Regions from separate parts of the Homo sapiens genome. Here region 2 is reported to be linked to region 1. The links are microRNA targets in miRTarBase. Many come from high-throughput screens and were not tested one by one. Region 1 holds a microRNA gene; the other region holds the end of a gene's coding sequence.

Region 1 (5,383 bases):
TTCAGACAGGTTGCCTCATTATTCTGGAGTTCTCTTACTTCAAATTTTTCTGTCCCTGCTGCCTCTGATCTGGTGATGCTCACTTGTGTTCACCTACTCTAACTGTAGCAGCAGTTTTCCTTTTCAGCTATAGTATACCAAAAAATAAAATAAAAATCACGTTATTTCTTTGGATAGGCCGTGGTATATGTGTTCTCTTCTGCTTAGAACACTTACCCCACCCTTCTCATTGCTAATTCCTGCTACTCTTTCAGTTCTCTTATATATGGTATTCCCTTAGAGAAGACATCTGTAATCAACGCTCTTAGCACTGAATTAAGTGGCCTCTCCATGTCTCCATTAGCCCTATATGGAAACTTTTCATAACACCTATTACTGCTTTTTTCAAATTCTTGTTTTCTCCTTTGTATTTCTTGAAACCTGGAGTTTTTATATCCCCAGCATCTAACCAAGACTATGCCTGGCACATGATAAGCGCAAAACAAATATTTTTTTTTCATACATACATATTTTCTACAAATTTTTTATTTAAATATTTTTAATTATTCAGATACTTAGCAAGTTTGGCTTGGTTGTTATATGTGTGGTTGGTGGAGGTGAGTAGGGTATTCCTGAGCAGTGACCTACACTGACAGTGGTGAACTGCCTAGGACTCTTATGTTCATGAGCTTCTATAAAGCAAACTTTTAATTAATGTTGACATTTGATGGTTACTTTGAAAAATGTTGAAATTTTCAAAAGCATGAATTACTTGATTGATATTATGCTTACTAGGCTGGGAAGATTTATAGATTCTTTTCATTAATTATAAATGAAACCTTTCTTTTTGCTCTTTAGATAAAAGTTAAAAGGTGGGATTCTGGTTATTTTGCAAAGGAGAGTAACTTTATTGTTTGTTTTTCATTTTTTATTGGTGTGGTTTTCTTTCAGAGTTGAACCTAATATGTATAATATAGAATTTAGTTTTATAAACATTCTTGGACTTCAGCAGTCATATGAAAAAATACTTACTTGGACAAATATCAGAGGAAAAAACACTCAGGTTAAACTCATTTAATGATTGCCTTTGAACTTTTATTTTAAGTTCAGGGGTACAAGGGCAGATTTGTAACATTGGTAAGCTTGTGTCATAGGATATGAGATTATATGAGTATAAAGTGGGAAGCTAAGTAACTGAGGATATCTTTAGAACAAATTATCCCAGCAACACTTATATACTGTGATATGGATGTGAGAATTACATATAGTTTTATTATTTATTCTACTCCCTACTCCTGACATCTATATTAATAACCATGCCCTTTTATTTTGATGAGCAGAACCCTGTTTTTTCATCCTGCATAATGTCATGCTAGTTATTGTATTAGGAATTCTTTTAAATGAAATTTACTGGTATATAATATAGAAAGCATGCATTTATTTTTAAGTTTTATTTACTTAAAATAAATGTTCAGTGTTTCTTGTGTGTTTCAGCTAAAAGAGGGTGGTGCAAAACTGAGCATATTCTTCAATTGATTGTGAACTAGATGGAAATACTTCCTCAACTTTTGGTGGCCAAAGGGTACTGTTTTTGTTGGTTCATAGGTACCAGGCTTTACACAAACTGTGAAGTGCTGTGGATTTCTTTGTGAATCACCATATCTAAGCTAATGTGGTGGTGGTTTACAAAGTAATTCATAGTGCTTCACAGGTGCTTCTGCAGTTGATCTACACCATGAAGCCTAAGATTCCTTTACTGAGCCATTGAGAACAAGCCACTTTGTATTACAAGACACACAAAGTCAAGAGATCCCTGGTAAATATACTCTAGAATCCTTCTATTTGGTGCTTAGTGTTAACAGTGATCAAACCTGTGTCAAACACACCAGAAATTATGGTTACTTTACCTAAATATACATGTTTTACATAGTTGCTGTCTCTGTCTCTACTGTTCTTTTTTTGAAAAGTAATTTGTAATATTTCTTGGTTAAAAAAACATGATACATCAGAAACATTAATTGAATCAGCCCCTTAAATCCTAAGCATACCATTTTGAAGTTTAAATATCATATTTTATTTGGATTATTATGCCCAATTAATATATTAATTAAATAGTTTGGTAAATGATCAGGGGCTTGAAGACATCATTGTTATGCAGTACTTTTGTAAAAAGCAACATTTTATTTTAACAAGAAAAACATTGGTGTGGGCAAAAAAAATCACCTTAACATACCAAATTGTACATTTTGATGGCATATATTAAAATTAGGTATTCACTGGGCATTCATTTTCATTTACTCTTCTGGAAACAGTATCTATAGTCCTATTCTATGACAGAAAAGATTGTGTAACCTTTACAAGGTCACAAAAGCCTAATTGTTGACTAGTAATTGCTTATTAAAATAAATGGAACTTTGTGGTCATTTCTGTCATCAGGATTACCAAGAATGGATTATCCCTGACCATAAATCAAACAATTGATGATTAACTATTTTAATAACTGATTAAGCTTTCAAATAGTCATTTTGGTTTTACCGTTTTTTATTTATTTCCAAGGCTAGAGCGTAGGTCTTATTTAAGTTCAATGGTATGACTATAAGACTGTCAGAACTATGAAAACTTCTGACCTTTAATTTCTTAAGTGACACATCTGGACACCTAAGTGACAGTGGTACAGGCTTCTGAAATTACTTTTGCATCATCATTGAATATATCTATTGTATTCATTATGACTTTATTTTGTCCTGTTATGTTTCATTCCTTAGAAGTGGATTATGCATATGCTCTATAAGGTTGGGTGACTTTAAATAAATTAGCATACTAATTTTTAAGCCCTTCTGTTAGATAAAAGAAAATCAGTATATTATTTTTCAACATATAAATGACCAAAAGAATGAATCAATATGTATACTTTTAACCTTAAAATATATGTGTATAAATATGATTGGAAATGCTTTACCTAAGAAATATCTTGCTACTCTAATTTAATTTGAACTATGATACAAACATGTTATTCTTATTTCCTAGCCTTTAATTCTTCAGTATTTATTATTACCATTCCTTGTCTGATACATATGTAACCTTATTTTTCATAGGACTGTATGTTCATAAGCAAAATCCACAGAGCTCTGGGATTTCCTGTGCTTTTGTTGGGTGCTACTTTGCTGATGTGTGAGGACAGGTGGGAAAAGAGTCTGAGAAGACAGGTTTCTGAAATTAATTTGTCCTAGAGCTCTTTGATTTTTCTGTTTTATGAAAGGGGGCACCTGTAAAATTTCCTTTGAGCCGAAGCTTATGTTTTTAATGATAATATGTAGAACTGCTGATATATGAATTTAGAAGGAAGTCACAATATTTTTTCTTAAGATAATTTTTAGTTTACGGGAGATATAATGGGATGTGCTAATGGACTAATAAGCATATCTCATAATCATGTACCTATATCCTTGTATCCTAATTTTAATCCCAACTTCTTTATATTTATTTCACTACCGCTTTTTTTATTTTTAAGATAAATACAGGTTTACAAACAATGAATTAATTTTTAGTGTAGGTTTTGTGTTTTTTGGTAAGAGACAAAAAACATATGTTGCCCTGGCTGGGGTGCAGTGGTGCAATCATAGCTCACTTCAGCCTTGATTTCCTGGGTTCAAGCAATCATCCCACTTCAGTCTCCTGAGGAGCTGGGACTACAGTGCCTGCCACCATGCCCAGCTAATTTATTTTATTTTGTTTTATTTTATTTTATTTTATTTTTGTAGCAACACAATCTCACTAGATACTCATGCTTGAGTGCAGTTATGAGTAGAACATGTGTTCAAAGTGAACCTGAGGTCTCCTGTTATGGACAAGGTAATATCAAGCTTCCCTAATTTCTGTGAGAACTATATGAGAATAGATATGTTTAAATGAATGTTATCTGTGAGAATTTTCTAGAGAACAGAACCAACAAGATTTTTGTGTGTATATATATATTAAATATGTATATATATTAATAATATATATTATATATAGTATATTATATAAAATATATAATATATAAAATATATAATATATAAATATTATATATTTTATATAATATTGTATAAAAAATATATATTATATATTTATATAATATTATATAAAAAATATATAATATATAAAATATATTAATATAAATATATTTTATATATTTATATAATATAAATTATATAAAAATTTATATAATTTATATTATATAAATATATTTTATATATTTATATAATTTATATTATATATTTATATATTAATAATACATATTATACATTTATATATTAATAATATGTATTATATAATATATTATATTATATATTAATAAATATAATATATTATAGATTTATATATTAATGATATATAATATATTATATATATTATTTTTTACCTTTTTTTATTTATAAGGCTAGAGCTTAAGTCTTATTTAACTTCAATGCTATGACCACAAGACTGTCAGAACTCTGAAAACTTCTGACCTTTAGTTTCTTAAGTGACACATTTGTACAACTAAGTGACAGTGATACAGACTTCGGAAATTGCTTTTGCATCATCATTGACTATATCTATTGTATTCATTTTGACTGCATTTTGTCCTGTTATGTTTCATTCTTTAGAAGTGGATTATGCATATATATATATATATATGAAATATATATATGACTATACATGACAGATTATATATATGCATCTTTATATATAGAGAGAGAAATAAAGACTATCTATCTATCTATCCATCTATCTATCTTTCTTCTATCTATAGAGAGAGGGATTTATCATAAGTAATTGGCTCACATAATTGTGGAAGCATGGCAAGTCCAAAATCCGATGAGATGGGGCAGCTGTCTGGAGGCTCAGGGCAGATTTGCAGTTCAAGTCCAAGTGCAATCTAATCTTCTGGCAAAATTATTTCAAGCATGGGGAAGGTCAGTCTTTGTCTATTAAGGATTTCAACTTATAGGTGAGGCCTACCCACATTATAGAGGGAAATCTGTTTTATTTCAAAGGGTACCAATTTTGATGTTATTCTCTTCCAAAAATCACCTTCACAAAAATATCTAGCATAATGTCTGACCAAATATCTGGGCACTATGGTGCAGTCACGTTGACAAATAAAATTAATCTTCACAGTAAAAATGGTATTTTTCCAATGAAATAAATTTTTGATTTTCAAACAATAAGTTGGTGTTCTTTGTAAGATTTTCTTAATTATTTTCCACATATTTCTATGGGAATGTGAAATTTAAAATATTTATGTTTTATTTAATTTATTGGAAATTCAATTAGTTTATGAATATTTCTTCAGGGAATACTTCTACTAAAACATTATTGACTTAGAAGAACTGTAGAAATAATTGTAACCTAGTCATGTCTTCAATATTTGAGTTTCATTTTT
Region 2 (5,383 bases), not on the chromosome of region 1:
CCCAGTCTCATTTTGCGGGCTTTTCTCTCTTTTCTTTCCTTCCCTGGCACCCAAGCCAAAGGCCCTGCCTCTGGCCTCCAGCCCTACCCCCTTCTGCGGTTGCACAGAAGGATGGCTGCCCAGCTCTTAAAAAAACTGCCCGGGAACTGTTGACATCTGTTCTCCCTCCCCCGCTGGCTTTTCTGATTGGCTTACAATCCTGAGGCTAGGACCGTCTCAGGAGCCAAGAGAGGAGAGCGGCCACAGGGAACCTAGGGTCTCACCAAGCTCTCCTTTCCTTCTGCAGGGACCTGCTCCGAATCGGAGTCACTCTGGCGGGACACCAGAAGAAAATCTTGGCCAGTGTCCAGCACATGAAGTCCCAGGCCAAGCCGGGAACCCCGGGTGGGACAGGAGGACCGGCCCCGCAGTACTGACCTGCAGGAACTCCCCACCCCAGGGACACCGCCTCCCCATTTTCCGGGGCAGAGTGGGGACTCACAGAGGCCCCCAGCCCTGTGCCCCGCTGGATTGCACTTTGAGCCCGTGGGGTGAGGAGTTGGCAATTTGGAGAGACAGGATTTGGGGGTTCTGCCATAATAGGAGGGGAAAATCACCCCCCAGCCACCTCGGGGAACTCCAGACCAAGGGTGAGGGCGCCTTTCCCTCAGGACTGGGTGTGACCAGAGGAAAAGGAAGTGCCCAACATCTCCCAGCCTCCCCAGGTGCCCCCCTCACCTTGATGGGTGCGTTCCCGCAGACCAAAGAGAGTGTGACTCCCTTGCCAGCTCCAGAGTGGGGGGGCTGTCCCAGGGGGCAAGAAGGGGTGTCAGGGCCCAGTGACAAAATCATTGGGGTTTGTAGTCCCAACTTGCTGCTGTCACCACCAAACTCAATCATTTTTTTCCCTTGTAAATGCCCCTCCCCCAGCTGCTGCCTTCATATTGAAGGTTTTTGAGTTTTGTTTTTGGTCTTAATTTTTCTCCCCGTTCCCTTTTTGTTTCTTCGTTTTGTTTTTCTACCGTCCTTGTCATAACTTTGTGTTGGAGGGAACCTGTTTCACTATGGCCTCCTTTGCCCAAGTTGAAACAGGGGCCCATCATCATGTCTGTTTCCAGAACAGTGCCTTGGTCATCCCACATCCCCGGACCCCGCCTGGGACCCCCAAGCTGTGTCCTATGAAGGGGTGTGGGGTGAGGTAGTGAAAAGGGCGGTAGTTGGTGGTGGAACCCAGAAACGGACGCCGGTGCTTGGAGGGGTTCTTAAATTATATTTAAAAAAGTAACTTTTTGTATAAATAAAAGAAAATGGGACGTGTCCCAGCTCCAGGGGTGATGGGGGTGATGGACTAGATTTCTAAGGAGAGTGGGGCTGGGTAGGGAGGGCTTTGTGGCTGACCGAGAGGTGTCAGAGGTCTGGAGGCTGCAGGGCTGTAGGGGCTGGAACTTGGTTATCAGCCCCAGGGTATGTTTGAGGTGGTGGGGTGGGGGCCGAGCGAGATGAATCATTCGCAGCTGCTTCTAACGTCTCCAGCTGGCTCTGCCAAGAGCCTGGGGCACCTCCGGGGTGGGGCTGTCCCCTCCCTCCCCTGTCCTGGTTCCTCAGTCCTGGCCAGAGGCTGCTGCAGGAGAGGGAGGGAAGGCCTTGAGCTCCCAGCCCTGCCCGACAGCCACTGGAGAGGGAGGCTGGGGCAGGAGCTGGAGCAGGGGGTTCCGTGGATGGACACAGATGGGGGCCAGATGTTGACAGCTGGGGTAGATTTAGAGGCAGTGCGGGGAGAGTGTCTGCATTGGCTGTGGGGGAAGGGAAGAAGGGACCCCCCCACGTGTGTACACAAGCGATAAGCGCGCGCCGAGGACAATTCTCCCATTCAAGATGCTGCCCGGGCAGGTTCTCCCTGCCTCTTGGAAAGGGGAGGGGGAACCTCCTGTCTTCCCCCAACTTACCCCTCCAAATGCCCCGCTTTCTTTCTTGCCATTTTCTGTGTCCTTTTCTCCAGGGATCTTTCTGGCCTCCCCCCGGGCACCTGCAGGGGCAGGTCTTGACAAGGACCAGCCTGGCTTAACCTGGTCCATTGCTTTTTCTTTTTCTTTTTCTTTTTTTTTTTTTTTTTTTTTTTTTTTTTGAGACAGGGCCTCACTCTGTCACTCAGGCTGGAGTGCAGTGGAATGATCATAGTTCACTGTAACCTTGAACTCCTGGGCGCAAGGGATCCTCCCATCTCAGCCTCCCGAGTGGCTGGGAATCCTCCAGGCACACACTACCACACCCAGCTGATTTTTTTTATTTTTTGTAGAGACGGGTTGGGGGGGGTCTCACAATGTTGCCCAGGCTGATCTCAAACTCCTGGCCTCAAGCTATCCTCCCCTCCCAGCCTCCCAAGGTACTAGGATTACAGGCGTGAGCCACCGCGCCCAACCTTTTTCCATTTCTGCACTTGAGTCGCCCCCTGTTGACGTGTTTGGGTCAGTGCTGGACCCCAAATCACAGCTGGGGCCCTTCCCGGTCCAGGGAGGCTTGTCTCAATTTCCCACCTCTACAGCCCTCTTCTGGAGTCCCTCAGGCTCTTCTCTGTCCCCTTTCCCTTGGTGACACATCACCCATGTTTTGTACCCCTGAGGAGGTGTGGGAGGGACTCGGGGGGTCCATCCAGAGGATGTTGCCCAGGCCCACCCTCTTCCCCTGCCAACCAGACATCCGGGCTAGATAAGGTGTCCTAGAGAGCTGTAGCTGGAGAAAGAAAGGTTAATGGGCATTGCAGAGGTGCAGCAGAGAGGCCAAGAGTGAAGACCCGGTGTGGGGAGCTGGGGTCAGGGCAGGGGGCTGCAGAAGCCCCCTGAGGTCCAGCCCCAAGAGCTCCAGGCTGCCCTGAGCCTTCCTGCCACATCCAGCTCCCCACCATGAATGCTCTTCCAGCTAGGGCAAGGGAGAGTCTCGCTGGGCAGGACCCTCCCTTCCCGGGTTTGGGTCTTGCTTCATTCCCATAAAGGTGACCTCAGGGCGTGTCATCCCAGAGGATAAGCGCAGAGTATAACACATTTCTAGAACTCAGTATCCTCCCTGGTTGGTTGGTTGGTTGGTTGTTTCTTTAGAGACAGGGTCTCGTTCTGTTGCCCAGGCTGGAGTGCAGTGGTGCAGTCATAGCTCACTGCAGCTTGGAACTCCTGGGTTCAAACAATCCTCCCGCCTCAGTCACCCAATAATTCTTTACATTTTTGTAGAGACAGGGACTCGCTATGTTGCTCAAGCTGGTCTCCAACTCCTGATCTCAAGCAATTCTCCCTCCTCAGCCTCCCAAAGCACTGGGATTACAGGCGTGAGCCACCACACCCAGCCTGTCCTCCGTTTTGACATCCCCAAACCCAAATCCCCTTTGGGGTCCTACATCCTGATCTTCCCCCAGCCCAATTGGCAGCCTTCCATTCCTTCCAGTGGCACGATCTCAGCTCACTGCAAGCTCTGTCTCCCGGGTTCACGCCATTCTCCTGCCTCAGCTTCCTGAGTAGCTGGGACTACAGGCGCCAGCTGCCACACCCGGCTAATTTTTTTTTGTATTTTTAGTAGAGATGGGGTTTCACCGTGTTAGCCAGCATGGTCTCGATCTCCTGACCTCGTGATCCGCCCGCCTCGGCCTCCCAAAGTGCTGGGATTACAGGTGTGAGCCACCGCACCCAGCAAGCCTTCCTTCTTAGAGCACAAGCAAGACGTCCCAGCCCCCACTTCCAAGCAAGGACCTGCCTGATGGGAGGCAGAGGTCCCGAGGGAGGGGGCGGGATGTTTGCACCTTGGCCTCAGGCTGGGGTGAGTGGGTCACTCCTAGTAGGATAGAGGTCAGAATTCTTCAGCAACCCAGACCCCAGACCCCGCCCTCAGTAACCCCTAGCCCCTTTTGGAAAATGGAGGAATACCGGGGGTGGGGGCCTCTCCAGAGGGTCACAGGCTGATTTGCTTTTTTTGGAAAAAGCCACTTTTTTTAGCCAGGACGTGGTGACATGCGCCTATAGTCCTGGCTACTTGAGAGGCTGAGGCTTGAGCCCAAGAATTCAAGCTCCCATCTCAGCCTCCTGAGTAGTTGGGAATCCTCCAGGCGCACGCCACCATGCCCAGCTGATGTTTTATTCTTTGTAGAGACAGGGGGCCTCATAATGTTGCCCAGGTTGATCTCAAACTCCTGGCCTCAAGCAGTCCTCCCCCTCAGCCTCCCAAGGCGCTGGGATTACACCACGCCCGACCTGCTTTTTCCACTTCTGCACCTCAGTCGCCCCCTGTTGTCGTGTTTGTGTCAGTGCTGGACCCCAAATCACAGCTTGGGCCCTTCCCAGCCCAGGGAGACTTGCCCTCAATTTCTCACCTCTACAGCCCTCTTCTGGGGTCCCTCGGGCTCTTGAGTCCTCTGTCCCCTCTTCCCTTGGTGACACATCACCCATGTTTTGTTCCCTCGAGGAGGTGTGGGAGGGACTTTGGGGGGTGAACTATGATTGCGCCACTGCACTCCAGCCTGGGTAACAGAGGAAGCACCTGTCTCTAAATAAGGAAGGGAGGGACAGAGGGGAGAGAGAAAGAAAGAAAACAGAGAGAGAGAGAGAGAGAGGGAGGGAGGGAGGGAGAAAGGAAGGAAGGAAGGAAGGAAGGAAGGAAGGAAGGAAAAACGAAGGAAGGAGAGAGTAAGAGGAAGAAAAGGAAGGGAAGGAGGGAGGAAAGGATGGAGGAAGGAAGGAAGGAGGGAAGGAAGGAAGGAAGGAAAGGCGGGCAGGCCACGTTTGGCTGGGTAAGGTGGTCACGTGTATTCCTTGTACTTTGGGAGGTGGAGGCAGGCTGAGCTCTTTGAGCCCAGGAGTTCAAGACCAGTTTAGGCAACATAGTGAGACCCTATCTCTTCTAAAAAATATCAAAATTAGCCAGGCGTAGTGGTGCATGCCTGTAGTCCCAGCTACTCAGGAGGCTGAGATGGGAGGATCGTTTGAGCCCCGGGGGTCAAGGCTGCAGTGAGCTATGACTGCACCACTACACTCTAGCCTGGGCAACAGAGTGAGACCTTGTCTCTAAAAAAAAAGAAAAAGAAAAAAAAGCCACATTCCCCAACCTTAGTCTGTACTTGACATGTAAAATTTCTCAGAATCACCTTGGTGGGGAGCCAGAGGCCACGTCCTCTAAGCACTCGGATTCCTGAGGTGAAGTCTTCTCCTAAATCAGAAGCCGAGGGTCTGGGGCTGCATCCCACCCTCCATTCCCCTGCCCGCCCTGTTCCTTCTGCCCTCCCTGCTCCTTCTGTCTCCCCTAGTGATGTCAGCCTCGCCGGGACTGAATGTGCCACCCGCATGTGGCTTTCTCTAAGGGACAACACCCTCACCTCAAACCTAGGTTCCTCTCCCCTCTAGACATTTTGCACAGAACCCAGCCCTAC

What was found. Region 1 holds the annotated microRNA hsa-miR-876-3p (UGGUGGUUUACAAAGUAAUUCA, at 1,656-1,677, shown strand). A microRNA usually pairs through its seed, bases 2 to 8, with sites in the 3' UTR of a target mRNA and lowers its output. Matches are read on the target gene's strand: a 7mer-m8 pairs with bases 2 to 8, a 7mer-A1 pairs with bases 2 to 7 and ends in A, and an 8mer does both.
Region 2: miRTarBase lists EPHB4 as a target of hsa-miR-876-3p. Seed matches in the 3' UTR shown: 7mer-A1 at 862-868.

Annotation. Positions count from the first base shown.
Region 1 is chr9:28,859,930-28,865,312 of GRCh38, reverse strand. MIR876 (microRNA 876) reads left to right here and starts at 1,607; the gene lies at 1,607-1,687. All of the region lies in intron 2 of LINGO2 (leucine rich repeat and Ig domain containing 2), which reads left to right.
Region 2 is chr7:100,798,494-100,803,876 of GRCh38, reverse strand. It overlaps EPHB4 (EPH receptor B4), which reads left to right. Exons shown (of 17, transcript NM_004444.5): 17 at 287-1,312. The coding sequence ends at 416. Among named protein-coding and RNA genes, the nearest start is that of EPHB4, 26 kb to the left of the region's middle. RefSeq lists enhancers at 1,005-1,707, 1,708-2,411, 4,355-4,414 and a silencer at 4,056-4,350.